4 linked regions of the Homo sapiens genome follow. The protein of the gene in region 1 purifies or fractionates together with the protein of each later gene. This does not show direct contact. Each region holds a gene or a part of one and is shown in the gene's direction. Other genes may lie near its edges.

Region 1 (4,280 bases):
AAGCCCCCACCCCCAAGGAAGCCACTGCCTGCCGACCCCCAGGGCCGGTGCCCATCGGGTGACCTGCCCGGCCCAGGGGCTGGAATCCCGCCCCTAGTGGTACCCTCCAGGTAGGAGGAGCCCTGGGCATGGGTGGGCGGGGCGAGTGACCTGGGGGAAAGGGGCCTCTGACTCTTTTTTCTTGGCTTCCCGCAATCCAGACCAGCGCCACCGCCTCCGACAGTGTCCTCGCTCTACCTCTGACCTCTCCGGAGGTTCCGCTGCCTCCAAGCCGGACTTAGGGCTTCAAGAGGCGGGCGTGCCCTCTGGAGTCCCCTACCATGACTGAAGGCGCCAGAGACTGGCGGTGTCTTAAGACTCCGGGCACCGCCACGCGCTGTCAAGCAACACTCTGCGGACCTGCCGGCGTAGTTGCAGCGGGGGCTTGGGGAGGGGCTGGGGGTTGGACGGGATTGAGGAAGGTCCGCACAGCCTGTCTCTGCTCAGTTGCAATAAACGTGACATCTTGGGAGCGTTCCCCAGAGTTTGTCTGCTTCTAGAACCCGGGTCGCTCCTGCTGCGGTTCCAGGTTTGGCCGCCAGAAGACGCTGCCGCCTCAGACGAGGGCGGGCTGTGTGGGGCGGGAGTACCAGAAAGGGTCGGCGTGTGTCCCCGGGATGCTCGCAGCTTCCCTCTGCCCAGACTGGGGTGGCTTTCGGCGCAATCTGTCAAGCTGTTGGACCTGCCGTCCCCACTCTGACCATTGGCTGGGAAAAGTGGATCTGGCTGATGCTCCCAGAGCCCAGGAGCCAGGGCGGAGCGGGGCGGCGGCTGCTCCCACGATCCCAAGGCCGCGCACCTGCCTCCTCCCCCTCCGCCGCCGCCACCTGAGGGATCGGGAACAAAGGTGCTTTGTACAGGCCGCAACCACCTCATTACTTCGTCTTAGGGACTGGGGCCGCGTGGGCCCCCAGCCCGGAACGAAGGTGTGGAGCGGCAAGGGACAGACGCCAATCCTAAAGTGAGCATCTAGCGCGCCACCTAAGGCTCTTTAGGGAAGGTGGTCCCAGAGCTGTGTTGTCCCTTCCGCTTGCACTGTCCCTAGATGTGCAAAGAAAACGGGGCAGTGCATGAAGGTGGTTGGACAGGCTTCATGGATCCTCGCCCGCGCCTCACTTTCCCCTATCTGGGCAAAGGTTATGTACCCTTATTTAAAATCTTCCAAACTTCTAATAAGGCAGTCTACCCTGCACTAAAGCAGACACGAAAGAGATGACCTCCCTAAAAATACTGCTGTTGGAATACGTCCTTCCTTCCCGCCCCCTCGCAGTGCGGTGCAGCCTCAGTGGAAGCTTTGGCGAACCTGGCGCGCGCTGCGGTGCACAGAGGGTTAACTGGAGTTGGCGCTGGGTGGAGAGGAGGAGACGCGCTCCCATTGGCGGAAAGTTATTCAGGGGCGGGGTCAGTGAATCTCCGTACCCCACTCCCCTTTCCGCAACTTCCCTCTTCACTTTGTACCTTTCTCTCCTCGACTGTGAAGCGGGCCGGGACCTGCCAGGCCAGACCAAACCGGACCTCGGGGGCGATGCGGCTGCTGCCCCTGCTGCGGACTGTCCTCTGGGCCGCGTTCCTCGGCTCCCCTCTGCGCGGGGGCTCCAGCCTCCGCCACGTAGTCTACTGGAACTCCAGTAACCCCAGGTAGCCGGGCCGAACCGGGCGAGCGCACAGCCAAGTCTGCGCGCTCCCGGGCTTTGCGCGCGCCCGCCACCCGCTCTTTGCGCGGCGCCGCCTGAGCCTGGCCGCGCGCCGGGGCTCCTTTGTTTGAGCCGGCGGGGGAGGGGGGAGGGGCGAGGGGCGAGGCGCGCCCTGGGTCTCCCCACAGCCCGCATGTGTTGGGGGGCAGGCAGAAGACCCCAGCCCCAAGGGTTGTCTAGGGGGTCTTGGAGCATGGAGCTGGGGGGGCCTTTGCCCGCACTCCGGGCTCCGCCCCCCTCGCTGCTCTCCTGGCGATCCCCAGCCTCCCGCAGGCTGGAGCTGTGGCTGACGAACTTGAGAGCGAGGGAGGGGGCTTTACTCTTATGAAAGAGCGTGGGTTACTCTCCTGCCCGCTGGGTCTCACCTCTGGCTCTCACTCTGTCTCCTGATCTCATTTGCTATCTCTGCTTTCATCTCTGTCTTTATTGGTCCTTCTGTTTCTTTCCAGTGTCAGCCCTGCCCTTCTAGCCGAATCACCTCTGGGCAAGTCTCGTGACCTTCCTAACCTCATTTATCTCACCTGTATAATGGGCTAATAATACCTAGTACCCTGGGAAGTCTGGCAGGGTAAGTGAGGTCATGTATGTGAAAGAGGCTCAGGCTGTACAGATATAAACTATTATTTCTTTCTCTCTCCTGAGCTGCCTGCCTTTGAACCTTAGTATATTTTACTGTTTCCATCCCCCTCCCCAAGTCTCCCTGCCTCTCCTATTTCCTATCTGTTTTTCTTTCTGATTTTCTACTTGAGACAATCTGTGACTATTCATTTCTTCACTCACTAACATTTATTTATTAAACACATACTGTGTGTGCCCGGCCCTGTGCTAGGTTGCAGGGGATTAACTATATAGATGAGAAGATCAAGACCCTGCCCTCTGGGATTCCACAGACTCTCTGGAGAACAGGCGCAGGCAGGAGAGCCTGCATAAAGACAGGTCATTACAATACCAATAACAAGTGATAAGAGCTTTTGTTGTCCTTGGACTCTGAATTCTCTATCTCTGTCACAGACCAAAGCTTCTGAATCACTTGGAGGACCTGTTAAAAATTCAGGTTTCTCACCCCCCAATCTTAAGGTTTCTGGCTCATTCATTCAATCCACAAATATTTATTGAACACTGTCCTGTGCTGGGCACTTTTCCAGGCACGGGGGATGCAGTAGAACAAAACTTACCAAGGCCCTGTCCTTGCTCAGCTTGCGTTCTAGTAAGTCTGGGCTGGCTGAGCCCAGGAATCTTCATTTCTAATCAGAACTGATACAGGTCGTCCTTGGACCACCCACTGGAGGCTTTTCCTAAGTCATGCTTCGCTGTGTTTGTGGTATGGGGGGTGGTTCATGCAGCATTCAGTACTGTGGGGAGCAGCCCCTTCCAGCCCTTCCCACCTGTGCTGGCTTCCCCAGGCAGCTCCCAAGAGGTGGGGAAGGGAGTCCTGAGAAGACTGAAGACTGGGTAGTATGTGGACTCCCCCCATGCCTGGCACTTGCTCCTCCTGGCCAAAAAAGGGAGGCACCTAGCACCCACTCCCTCATTCTTTTTTTTTTTTTTTTTTTAATTTTTAGAATTTAGAGACAGGGTCTTGCTCTGTCACCCAGGCTGTAGTGCGGTGGCATAATAGCTCACTACAGGAACTTGCGGACTCTAAGGATCCTCCCGCCTCAGCCTCCCAAGTAGCTGGGACTACAGGAGTGCACCACCACTCATGGCCTTTATTTATTTATTTATTTATTTATTTATTTATTTATTTATTTATTTTTTGAGATGGAGTCTCGCTCTGTCTCCCAGGCTGGAGTGCAGTGGCGCAATCTCGGCTCACTGCAAGCTCCGCCTCCCGGGTTCACGCCATTCTCCTGCCTCAACCTCCCAAGTAGCTGGGACTACAGGTGCCCGCCACCACGCCCGGCTAGTTTTCTTTTTATATTCTTAGTAGAGACGGGGTTTCACCGTGTTAGCCAGGATGGTCTTGATCTCCTGACCTCATGATCCGCCCGCCTCAGCCTCCCAAAGTGCTGGGATTACAAGCGTGAGCCACCGCGCCCAGCCTATTTATTTATTTATGGTAGAGACAGTCTCACCATGTTGCCCAGGCTGGTCTTGAACTCCTGGCCTCAAGCGATCCTCCCACCTCGGCCTCCCAAAGTGCTGGGATTCAGATGTGAGCCACCACACCTGGCCTCCCTCATTCTTTTTTTACCGTGACATTCTTTTCACCCTTGGGTTGAAGTCAGTCTAAAGGACAGTGTTCCTCACTTTATATCTGTTTGAGGAGACCTTTCCCAACCCCTGTTTCCACCTCTGTGTCTGCAGCTGCACTGTGTGCAACTGTACCTCCTGCCTCTCTGCCCAGCTTCTTCACAGCATCCATCCACCTGACATTGATCAAGCCTGGTGCTATACCACATTGAGTGTTGGGCACTGGAGCTAGAGAGGTGTGTGGCAGCTCCAGCCTGTAGGACAGGGTGTGGTGACCCTCCTTCTCACATCTAAGCTGTGTGGTTATGGGCACTGCAGGTCTTAGCCTCTCGGAACCTGTGAATCGATCATCTC
Region 2 (3,500 bases), on another chromosome or scaffold:
AAATTGAGAAATATTTATTTTTTCTCATCAAGTTAACAAATTTATTCCTTAAACGTGTGTTGAATCGATACTATAGGGCAGGTCTTTCATTAAATGCTGGAAATGAGATGAACAAAATATAGTCCCTGACTTCCTGAATTTCAGGATGTAGAAGAAAACAAAGAATTACACTCACCATGTCAATTGCTGAAATAAGCCTCACACAGAGGGTGTCAGAAGGGATAGGACCACAGAGGGAGGGCACCTAACTTGTTAAAGGTAATTTGGAGGGGGAGAAGTGAAGGCTCTCAAGGTACATGTATCTCACCAGACATTATGAAGAAGTTGGCCAGATAGAAGGGGAAAACATATATTCCAGTCTCTATGTGCCATCATACAATGTCTTCCTTTCTTACTGTCTTTTACTGTTATTCTATATTCCTAATAGGCATTTATGAAATATCCCACCAAAAATGGTTTCTCAGTTTTAATTAACTCTTTTCCCTACTTTATCCTTAGTGAGGGAAAAAATTGTCTGAATTCTTTGTCCCTCAAGGAGTTCCTTCCTTTTCAGACCTTTCCTTTCACTAAATAGAAGTTTAATTTCTTCTTAAACTCTTCGATGTTCATACTTTGCCTCATATGGTGCTCTGTGTAGATACTTCAGTAGCTTTTAATTAATAATTCTCTGGTACTAGAAGTTTGATCTTTCAGCAAGTAGTTGTTACTACCCTGGGTTCTTCTAAGAACTCCACATTGCGCCGTTAATATGTAGACTTATTTTAAATTCTCCTTCCTATTCTTAACATTAAATATTCTCAATTAATGGTAACTTAAGAATATCAAGGCACAAGATTTGCAATAAACAATGCATTTGATAGGTTTTACCTATCATTTAGTGTGCTTTTCACAAGCACTGACATTGACAAGCATTTTAGTAGTTGCATGGTCTCCTTCAGCCTCTGTGAGGCAATAAAACACAGGAATGTGCTCTCAACCTTCAAAAGGAAAGCTCAGACAAATAGTATCACTAAACTGCAGTCTACATCAGCTTTCCAACCTGTACTTTGTATCATCCTCAATTCATTAAGGTGTGGAGAAAAAAAACAATTCTCCTTTCCATGTTTGTCACAGTTTAAAATTATATTGTTTGTGCAGAACATTAATAATGATAGTTTAATAGTGCATGAATATAATTTATAAACTCAAAAATATACATATGTTGGGTGTATATGCTCAAAATTATCCTACAGGCAGGAAGACATGATCCAAACAGTTTGATAATTACTGATCTAATCATAAGCATCTTAAAGATAATTTACAAGTTATATAAAAGGGTCTTTTAAAATCCCTGTTAATGTTCTTTAAAAGTCTCTGCAAGGCAGTCTTACACAATAACAGGTCACTTCCTCGGGACACAACTGCCTGCTCCTCAGCTCTATGACAATTAGGCTCTGATGGCTGGTAGAAATTTCTTTTATCTCAGTGGAGAGCTGGAAACAAAGAGCTAAAATAACTAGAAGCTAAGAATAAGTCTACAGGACCCCTGATTGTAGCTCTTACATCCAGGCTCTATAAGTAAATCCAGACTTCTTGCTTCCTTTGCAAAATGTAATGTTTTTAGTGATGATAATAAACATGTTTTTTTAAAAAACCTTTTATTTTCATAAACAAATCATGTTCATTTTAGTCAGCTCAGCCTCTTCAATTTAATTCAAGAACATTTTCCAAGAGCCAATAATTCTTTAAAAATAAAAAAAGCCAATGTTTTTGTTATGAAACTACCAGTGATGTTTTAAATGAAAACAATATTAAATTGTTTCTGTCATTTTCATAAGTTGAAATTATATTTTAACTGAAAAGATATCATTAAAGTAATTTATTAACATTATATGGCTTTATCAGTATTTGTAATGAATTGAGCACATCTCGGGGACAATAATAAATGCTTTGTACCTGTTTTCTGTCTCGTTTCCCACTACAGATTCCCAAACAACAACCCATTAGAACATTGGAACATTAGAAGAATGTTAGAACAACCCATTAGAACATTGGGAGACTATGTACACTTATTTTTATATTCTCCTTCCTATTCTTAACATTAAATACTCTCAATTAATGTTATGTTGAGAATATCAAGGCACATTTGTGGAATTTAGAGTTTTAGACAAAAGATAGTTAACATTTTTTGTTGTTTTTAGAAACCTGTAGGAAATTAGCTAATATGTCTATTTTGTCTTAATGTAGTAGAGGAAAAATATTACTCTTGTAATTTGGGATATACTGTGGGAAAATAAGTCGTGATTTAGTGATGGAGAAAGTGTAGAACTTCAGTTTAGGTGTGTATTACTCCCACAACATAGCCCAGAAGTTCCTCTTTATATCTAATTGCTAACATCATTATTGCATACTATCTACATTTTTTTCCTTTGTCATTTTTCTCCTAAAAAAAGAAAATCCCAATCTCCTTAAAAGACACTGGTCATTTGAGGTTACTCTTTAATCAAGATATGGTTGAACTTGGCAGGACCCAAAATGTTCTAAAATGCTGGAATTGCTGGTTCATTTGCAAAATTACAAAACAATTCTATTTCCTACCAGCAAATTAGCACTGTGAGAGATTTCCAAGTCCTAGTAGTGAGCTATAGGCTTGCATTATATCATGCCTAAGAAGATGTATATCATCATCATCAGTACTTAAGCCTTTAGTAAGCTATCAAAATATGGCACTATGCTACATGAAAATCAACTTGGTTCCTCTCTTCTGATAAGTAACAGAATGCTTTATATTTAAAATGATTGCTTTCTATTAAACTGTAATACATGAAGTTGTTTTGAAACATGACATTTGTATAGTAACTTTGAAATCTTTGATTTAAAATTGCAGCTGATGTTCTGAGCGAAGAAGCAATACTGAAATGGTATAAGGAAGCACATGTTGCTAAAGGCAAAAGTGTTTTTCTTGACCAGATGAAGAAATTTGTTGAGTGGTTACAAAATGCAGAAGAAGGTATGATTCTGTTTACAAACATTGATGACCTTTAAACACTGTCTCATTATATGTCAAAATATTTACCTCTTCCACAGATTTTACTTGATTTTCTAAAACTAAAATTCTAGAGTTATCTTTCGTATCAAACATTTTGCCAACATCTTAGCTTTCCTTTCTGAAATCACGGCAATAAAAATCTCTACATGTAAAAACAAAGAAAGAAATGAAATGCTTAAATTATCCACTCTGATGGAGGACAATAAGGAAGAAATGATTAGTAGATGTGAAAGGAGAAAAATACATTTAGCTTAATCACGCATTATGGAATTCTATAGATTTTTATGACACCTTTACCAATTAACTGGCAATTTTAAATAATGGAAATATAAAGTGGAAGGATAATAATGAGTAAGAGTGAATTCAGGCCAGGTGTGGTGGCTCACACCTGTAATCCCAGCACTTTGGGAAGCAGAGGTGGGTGGATCACCTGAGGTCAGGAGTTTGAGAGCAGGCTGGCCAACATAGTGAA
Region 3 (3,500 bases), on another chromosome or scaffold:
AGGGGCATCATGTGGGGATCAGCAGCTAGGGCTCCTCCTGGGGTCAATCTAAGGGTCCTTGGAAGAAAGGCATGTCCGTGTGTGGTTCTGTCTGCAGCATCATTTGGAGTTTGATTCTGTTGCTATTCTGATGGGTTGTAACACTGGTTTGCCTCCACCAGATGTTGTTGAAATGTTAATATAAAAGTAACATTCCTTTTAGGATAAGTGGCATTGGATTTGGGTGGCTGGAGTAACTTTAGTGTTAACCTTGGCTAGATCTTTCCTGCAGTTATCAATCCCTTCATGACTTCCACAGAAAATCTCTTTCCTTTATAACCTTCTTTGCATAGCCAGGGTGTGACATATTACCAAACCCAATAAGAAGTTCTAGCAAACTCGGTGTTAGTAAAACTTTCGTGCTTCCTTTTTGTTGGTAATTATCCCTGCTATCAGGATAATAATTAAGCAAATTCTACAACAATGAAAACTCTCTTTCCAGTATTTCAGTTAGAAGGTGCTATTGTGTCCAGAATTGGTGGGTTCTTGGTCTCATTGACTTCAAGAATGAAGCCACGGACCCTCACGGTGAGTGTTACAGTTCTTAAAGGCGGCGTGTGTGGAGTTTGTTCCTTCTGATTTTCGGATGTGTTCGGAGTTTCTTCCTTCTGGTGGGTTCGTGCTCTCGCTGGCTTCAGGAGTGAAGCTGCAGACCTTCGCAGTGAGTGTTACAGCTCATAAAGGCAGTGTGGACCCAAAGAGTGAGCAGCAACAAGATTTATTGCAAAGAGCGAAAGAACAAAGCTCCCGCAGTGTGGAAGGGGACCTGAGCCGGTTGCCACTGCTGGTTGGGGCAGCCTGCTTTTATTCCCTTATCTGGCCCCACCCACATCCTGCTGATTGGTCCATTTTACAGGGTGCTGATTGGTGCGTGTACAATCCCTGAGCTCGACACAAAAGTTCTCCAAGTCCCCCCTAGATTAGCTAGATACAGAGTACTGATTGGTATATTTACAAACCCTGAGCTAGATACAGAGTGCTGATTGGTGCATTTACAAACCTTGAGCTAGACACAGGGTGTGGATTGGTACATTTACAAACCTTGAGCTAGACACAGAGTGCTGATTGGTGTATTTACAATCCCTTAGCTAGACATAAAGATTCTCCAAGTCCCCACCAGATTAGCTAGATACAGAGTGCCGATTGGTGCATCCTCAAACCCTGAGCCTAGACACAGGGTGCTGATTGGTCTGTTCACAAACCTTGAGCTAGACACAGAGTGCTGATTGGTGTATCTGCAATCCCTTAGCTAGACATAAAGGTTCTCCAAGTCCCCACTAGACTCAGGAGCCCAGCTGGCTTCACCTGGTGGATCCTGCACCAGGGCCGCAGGCAGAGCTGCCTGCCAGTCCCGCGCTGTGCGCCTGCACTCCTCAGCCCTTGGGCGGTTGATGGGACCAGGCGCTGGGGAGCAGGGAGCGGCGCTCGTCAGGGAGGCTCAGGCCACGCAGGAGCCCACGGCAGTGACTTGGAGAACCTTTATGTCTAGCTGAGGGATTGTAGATACGCCAGTCAGCACTCTGTGTCTAGCTCAAGGTTTGTAAATGCACCAATCAGCACTCTGTATCTAGCTAATCTGGTGGGGACTTGGAGAATCTTTATATCTAGCTCAGGGATTGTAAACGCACCAATCAGCACCCTGTCAAAACAGACCAATCAGCTCTCTGTAAAATGGACCAAATCAGCAGGATGTGGGTGGGGCCAGATAAGGGAATAAAAGCAGGCTGCCTGAACCAGCAATGGCAACCCGCTCAGGTCCCCTTCCACACTGCGGGAGCTTTGTTCTTTCACTCTTTGCAATAAATCTTGCTGCTGCTCACTCTTTGGGTCCACACTGCCTTTATGAGCTGTAACACTCACCGCGAAGGTCTGCCGCTTCACTCCTAAGCCAGCGAGAGCACGAACCCACCAGAAGGAAGAAACTCCGAACACATCCGAACATCAGAAGGAACAAACTCTGGACATGCCGCCTTGAAGAACTGTAACACTCACTGTGAGGGTCTGTGGCTTCATTCTTGAAGTCAATGAGACCAAGAATCCACCAATTCCAGACACACTGCCATGTATAACCCTACTGCAAATAGTAGAGTGAGTATAGCAATTCCCACAAGTGTGGTGTAGTAGATACTTTCCATCTAAAATTTTATTTGCCAAGGTATCCAGATTTTTGTGTTACCCATCTCTTTTTGTTTCTTGTAAGCTTCAGGAGATCACCACTTGATTCACAGGAATAAGCAGTGTTAGTCTAAAATGTAGGCACACAACTTAAAAACAATTAATGTGACTAGGATTTAATGACAAATGTATGATAAGCTTTGGAGCATATTTTCTCTCTCTAGTCCTGATTTTGGTAAAAACAAATTATGATAGGACCGTGTTGTTTGTAGAATAAACCTTAGTCTTATATTTGGCCTTGTTATTTGCATAAAGTTCAGCAAGAGTAATTATTTCTGCATAGTCCTTTTGGATTGGCTTCGATGGAACTCTGTTCCACAAGAAATCTCAGATAAGACTTCTTAAAGCTGAGCCCAGCATGGGTTTGTATCTTCAAATACCTGTGAGTTGGGTGATCCTTTTCTCTTAAGGTCCCAAGATAAACTTGGAGCTCCTGGACCTGTTAGAAAGTGACATTCTTTACTGACCAAAGGTTAGGAACCCTGTGCGGGGACTGTGTAGACAAGGTATGAGGCCAGTTCTTCCCATGGGGCTTTTTCAGCTCTGCAAGTGGAGGTTGACTCCTTAAAGGGAAGCATACACTTCCAGTCAAAGCCTTGATAAAATAGCCAGTTTTTCCATTTGTGTCCTGTTGAAAAAGAAAAATGGATTCTTATTTCACTGATGCAAACAACTATATTGCCATAAGTTAAGAGTTCTCACAGATTAGAGGAACCAGGCAGAGAGAAACAATCATGCTTCAAGTTTTGTTCACAGGAGTATACCTTACTCAATTATTAAAGGCTGTAAATAGTTCAAAATAAGTTTCCTTGACTCTGAAAAACAAACCAAGGATCAGCAATATTCCAAGCAAAAGTCAAAAAGATTGCTTTAGCTTTCTGAGTGTAGTCCATTTAGTCAATTCTTGTTTTGCTTGATATTTGTGAACATTTCAGTTCATGAGTCCTGTACGTTCTTTCTCTCTTCCAATGTTACAATCTTCAAAGCTGTTAAAAACCTGCATTTGAGGACACCTGTTGAAAGTCCTTAATATAGCTTGATTATAAACTGTCTTTTCAGAAGGAACAAAGCAAAACAACAATTGTCTGTGCATGACAAAATTTCCAGGTTACAGTTAAAAACATGACGGAAAAAGTTTAGTTAACCTTAATTATGATTGATAGTATATACTTAGACATTAGAATTTTAGAAATCCCATACAATTTTGGAACATATATTAGTATTATTCACCAAAATATAACTTAAAGAAGATTGGACATCGTTTTGGCAATTCTAATGTGACTAAA
Region 4 (3,500 bases), on another chromosome or scaffold:
CCTGAGGCAGGGGCGCTGGACTCTTGGCTCCCTTGAAGCACTTGAGTCTAGCTGTCAGTGTCTGGGATGTCTGTCTCCCAAGGGGCAGAGGTTGCAAAGCATCTGCCTGGGTCCTCTGACGCTTGGTTCTTCCCCCCTTCCCCAGCGAGCCATCCAGCAGGCTGTGGGAAGCTCCCTGCAGGGGGACCTGCCCAATGATAAAGGTATGGCGGCTTCCGGTTCCTTTTAGCCCCTGCCCCCTCTCTGCATTCTTTATCCTAATGTCATTCATACAAGCTTTTCTGAAGCCTCCTGGGTGCCACCCTTGTGCTGGCATGGGGAGCCAAAAATGGGCAGACACCCTGTAGCTGCCTTGGAAGGGCCTAGTGTGCAGTGGAAGGGAGACAGGCACAGTGCTGGGAGAGGGCAGGAGGCCCACTTGAGCTAGCATGGTGGGAGACGGGTCAGGGCACCTTCCCCGAGCAGGGACAGTGAACGGCTCTCTAAGGACCTAGAAGAGTCTAAGGACCTAGGATTAGAGGGAAGCCTGATCAGCTGCAGCAGGCCTACAGCACGGGTGCAGCGGCGAGGGGCTGCGCTGGGCTTCCTTGGGGCTGGCATGCAGGAGGGTGTGAGTGGGGTTGGGGGAGGCAGGAGAGGTCTGTGGGGACTGGATCCCAGCAAGGCCTGAATGCCAGGTTGAGGTGTCTGAGGGCAGACAGGAGGACGAATGGCTGAGCGTCGCAGCCTCTGAAGTGGGTGCTGGGAAGTCCTCCTGGGAGGTGGCGCATGGAGGCCTGGAGAGCATGCGGGAGGCTGGTTCCGCTGTCAGGAACTAGATCAAGCTCCTCTTTCCTCTACCCCGCAAGTCTCTGCAGCAAGTCCCCTGTGTCCAATCCCCCATGCAAATCTCTCACCAGATGGCTCTCGGTGTCATGGCCTTCGATGGCGGCGCTGCCGGAGTCCACGGTCAGAGCCCCGTTCCCAGGAATCAGGGGGCACTGACACGGCTACTGTGAGTAAGAAGAGGGGGCTGGGGGCCTGGCTCACGGGTATCAGGGAGGAAGGGATGGGGGCCTGAGTCTGGGGGAATGGGGTTTGGGGACCTGGACTCCTGGCTCTGCGATGCTGACCAGGGGCAATGTTGGAGAGTCTGGGGGCCTGATCTGTGGGCCTGAGCTTTGAGTGTTGATGGCAGTCAGGCTATAGGAATTAGATCCTCAGTTTTCTTGGGGATCTTAGATGTCTGGGTTCCTGAGAGGTTAGGGAGTGGGGAAGCAGGATTTGCCAGTCTTCATGTGACCAGGGACGGCGTAGAGCCTCTCTGGCCTCTTCCAGGTGTTGGACATGGCCACGGACAGCTTCCTCGCAGGGCTGGTGAGTGTCCTGGATCCCCCGGATACCTGGGTTCCCAGCCGCCTGGACCTGCGGCCTGGCGAGTGAGTAGCTGGGCAGCTGGAGTGGGAGAGGCCTCAGCGTGAGAGCCAGAAGCACCCCTGAGGCTCACCCACCCCTTCCGCCTTGCAGAAGTGAGGACATGCTGGAGCTGGTGGCTGAGGTCCGAATCGGGGACAGAGATCCCATCCCTCTGCCTGTGCCCAGCCTGCTGCCCCGTCTCAGGGCCTGGAGGACGGGCAAAACGGGTATGTGGGGCCAGGGCGGAGCTGGGCAGGTGGTCGTGGAGTTGTGTGGGGATCGGCTGTTTTTGGTAGTGATGGTAGCGGTGATCATGTTATTTAGACAAAACCTTTCCCTTCTCTTCGTATTAGACGTGATTAAGGCTGTAGGCGCATACAGATGTACATAAAGTAAAAACTGATGTGCTGGGGCTATGTGGGAGTGGTCAGCGTGTGTGACAACTGGTTTCGGCACGCTAAGTATTAGTGTCACTGCACTGGGCGTTCATCTCCCCAGGAGGGGGACTCTTCGAATCTCTATCTTCAGAGAAGCAGACAGCCTGAAAAAGGGCAGGCACTTGCCCAAGGGCGCACAGCCAGATGCTCCGTGGGGTGCCTGGGCCTTGAGCCCTGGTGTGTCTGAGTCTGAAGCCCAAGTTTTTGATGTCTGAGATGTGCGCTGCCCAAGGAGGAATCTCTTCCTCCAACCCCACACACAACGGTAACCCTGTGAGCCCTTTAGACCAAACGCGAACGCACATCTCAGTTGCAAGGAGGACTTGTTACTATGCACATCACTGGGCCCACTCCCAAGAGTTCTGATTCTGCAGGTCTGGGGTGGGACCTGGGAATTTTCATTTTAAACAATACATGCTGCTGAGCCCTGGACTCTGTTGAGAACCCTGGGTTTAGGCCTTCCTTCTACGTGAACATCTGTATTTGGAGGAGGGGTTGGAGGGAGAGGAGAAGAAGGTGCAGTCAGCTATGGGCACCAGCTGTGAGCCGTGAGCACCAGTTCTGTGGTAGAGCAGGCACACCACTCTGTGCCAGGTCATGTTTACCTTGTTTACCTTGTTTCGCTGTGTCGCCCAGGCTGGAGTGCAGTGGCATAATCTCAGCTCACTGCAACCTCCACTTCCCGAGTACAAGCGATTCTCCTGCCTCAGCCTCCTGAGTAGCTGGGACTACAAGGTGCATGCCACCACACCCAGCTAATTTTCGTAGTTTTAGTAGAGATGGGGTTTCACCATGCTGGCCAGGATGGCCTTGATCTCTTGACCTCAAGTGATCCGCCCGCCTCAGCCTCCCACAGTGCTGGGATTACAGGCGTGAGCCACTGTGCCCTGCTACCTTGTTTGTTTTTTTTGAGACAGGGTCTCACTGCGTCCCCCAGGCTAGAGTGCAGTGGCACAGTCACAGCTCACTGCAGCCTCAAATTCCCCGGTTCAAGTTATCCTGTTGTCTCAGTCTCTGGAGTAGCTGGGACTACAGGTGCATGCCACCATGCCTGGCTAGTTTTTTTTTTTCTTTTTTCTTTTTTTGAGATGGAGTCTTACTGTGTCACCTAGGCCGGAGTGCAGTAGTGGGGTCTAGTCTCTCTGCAACCTCCGTCTCCCGGGTTCAAGTGATTCTCTCCTGCCTCAGCCTCCTGAGTAGCAGGGATTATAGGTGCGCATGCCACCACATTGAGCTAATTTTTGTATTTTTAGTAGAGGTAGGGTTTCACTGTGTTGGCCAGGCTGGTCTCAAACTCCTGACCTGAAGTGATCCGCCTGCCTCAACCTCCCAAACTGCTGGGATTATGGGCGTGAGCCACCACGCCCAGCCTTTATTTTTTATTTTTTTAAAATTTTTAATAGAGATGAGGTCTTGATATGTTGCGCAGGCTGGTCTTAAACTCCAGAGCTCAAGCAATCCTCCTGCCTTGGCCTCTCAAACTGCTGAGATCACAGGCATGAGCCACCATGCCTGCCACACCCCCCCCCCTTTTTTTTTAACAGCTGGAAATGATTTATCCATTAAGTACAGTGATATGGTGCCTAGGACTTATGACATTCTTAGGGGCCCACAAAAGTGTTTCAATTTCTTTAAAATCAGAAGCTGTAGGGCTGGGCACGGTGGCTC

The links.
Region 2: the proteins of EFNA4 (region 1) and BZW2 purify together in Homo sapiens (affinity purification with mass spectrometry; one large-scale study listed by BioGRID and IntAct). This does not show direct contact.
Region 3: the proteins of EFNA4 (region 1) and DYM purify together in Homo sapiens (affinity purification with mass spectrometry; one large-scale study listed by BioGRID and IntAct). This does not show direct contact.
Region 4: the proteins of EFNA4 (region 1) and SCAF1 purify together in Homo sapiens (affinity purification with mass spectrometry, with the first as the bait; one study listed by BioGRID). This does not show direct contact.

What each region holds. Positions count from the first base shown.
Region 1 is NC_000001.11:155,062,260-155,066,539, forward strand, and holds the start of EFNA4 (ephrin-A4 isoform a precursor), read left to right. Parts: upstream 1-1,480; 5' UTR 1,481-1,564; coding exon 1,565-1,677; exon of another isoform or gene 1,678-1,732; intron 1,733-2,182; exon of another isoform or gene 2,183-2,301; intron 2,302-4,280. Other genes in the region: ADAM15 (disintegrin and metalloproteinase domain-containing protein 15 isoform 6 preproprotein), read left to right, coding at 1-110, 201-243; EFNA4-EFNA3 protein precursor, read left to right, coding at 1,565-1,677. UniProt on the Homo sapiens protein: Cell surface GPI-bound ligand for Eph receptors, a family of receptor tyrosine kinases which are crucial for migration, repulsion and adhesion during neuronal, vascular and epithelial development.
Region 2 is NC_000007.14:16,701,681-16,705,180, forward strand, and holds part of BZW2 (eIF5-mimic protein 1), read left to right. Parts: intron 1-2,866; coding exon 2,867-2,989; intron 2,990-3,500. UniProt on the Homo sapiens protein: Translation initiation regulator which represses non-AUG initiated translation and repeat-associated non-AUG (RAN) initiated translation by acting as a competitive inhibitor of eukaryotic translation initiation factor 5 (EIF5) function.
Region 3 is NC_000018.10:49,450,646-49,454,145, reverse strand, and holds part of DYM (dymeclin), read left to right. Parts: intron 1-3,500. UniProt on the Homo sapiens protein: Necessary for correct organization of Golgi apparatus. Involved in bone development.
Region 4 is NC_000019.10:49,645,209-49,648,708, forward strand, and holds part of SCAF1 (splicing factor, arginine/serine-rich 19), read left to right. Parts: intron 1-145; coding exon 146-203; intron 204-899; coding exon 900-994; intron 995-1,285; exon of another isoform or gene 1,286-1,317; coding exon 1,318-1,418; intron 1,419-1,506; coding exon 1,507-1,622; intron 1,623-3,500.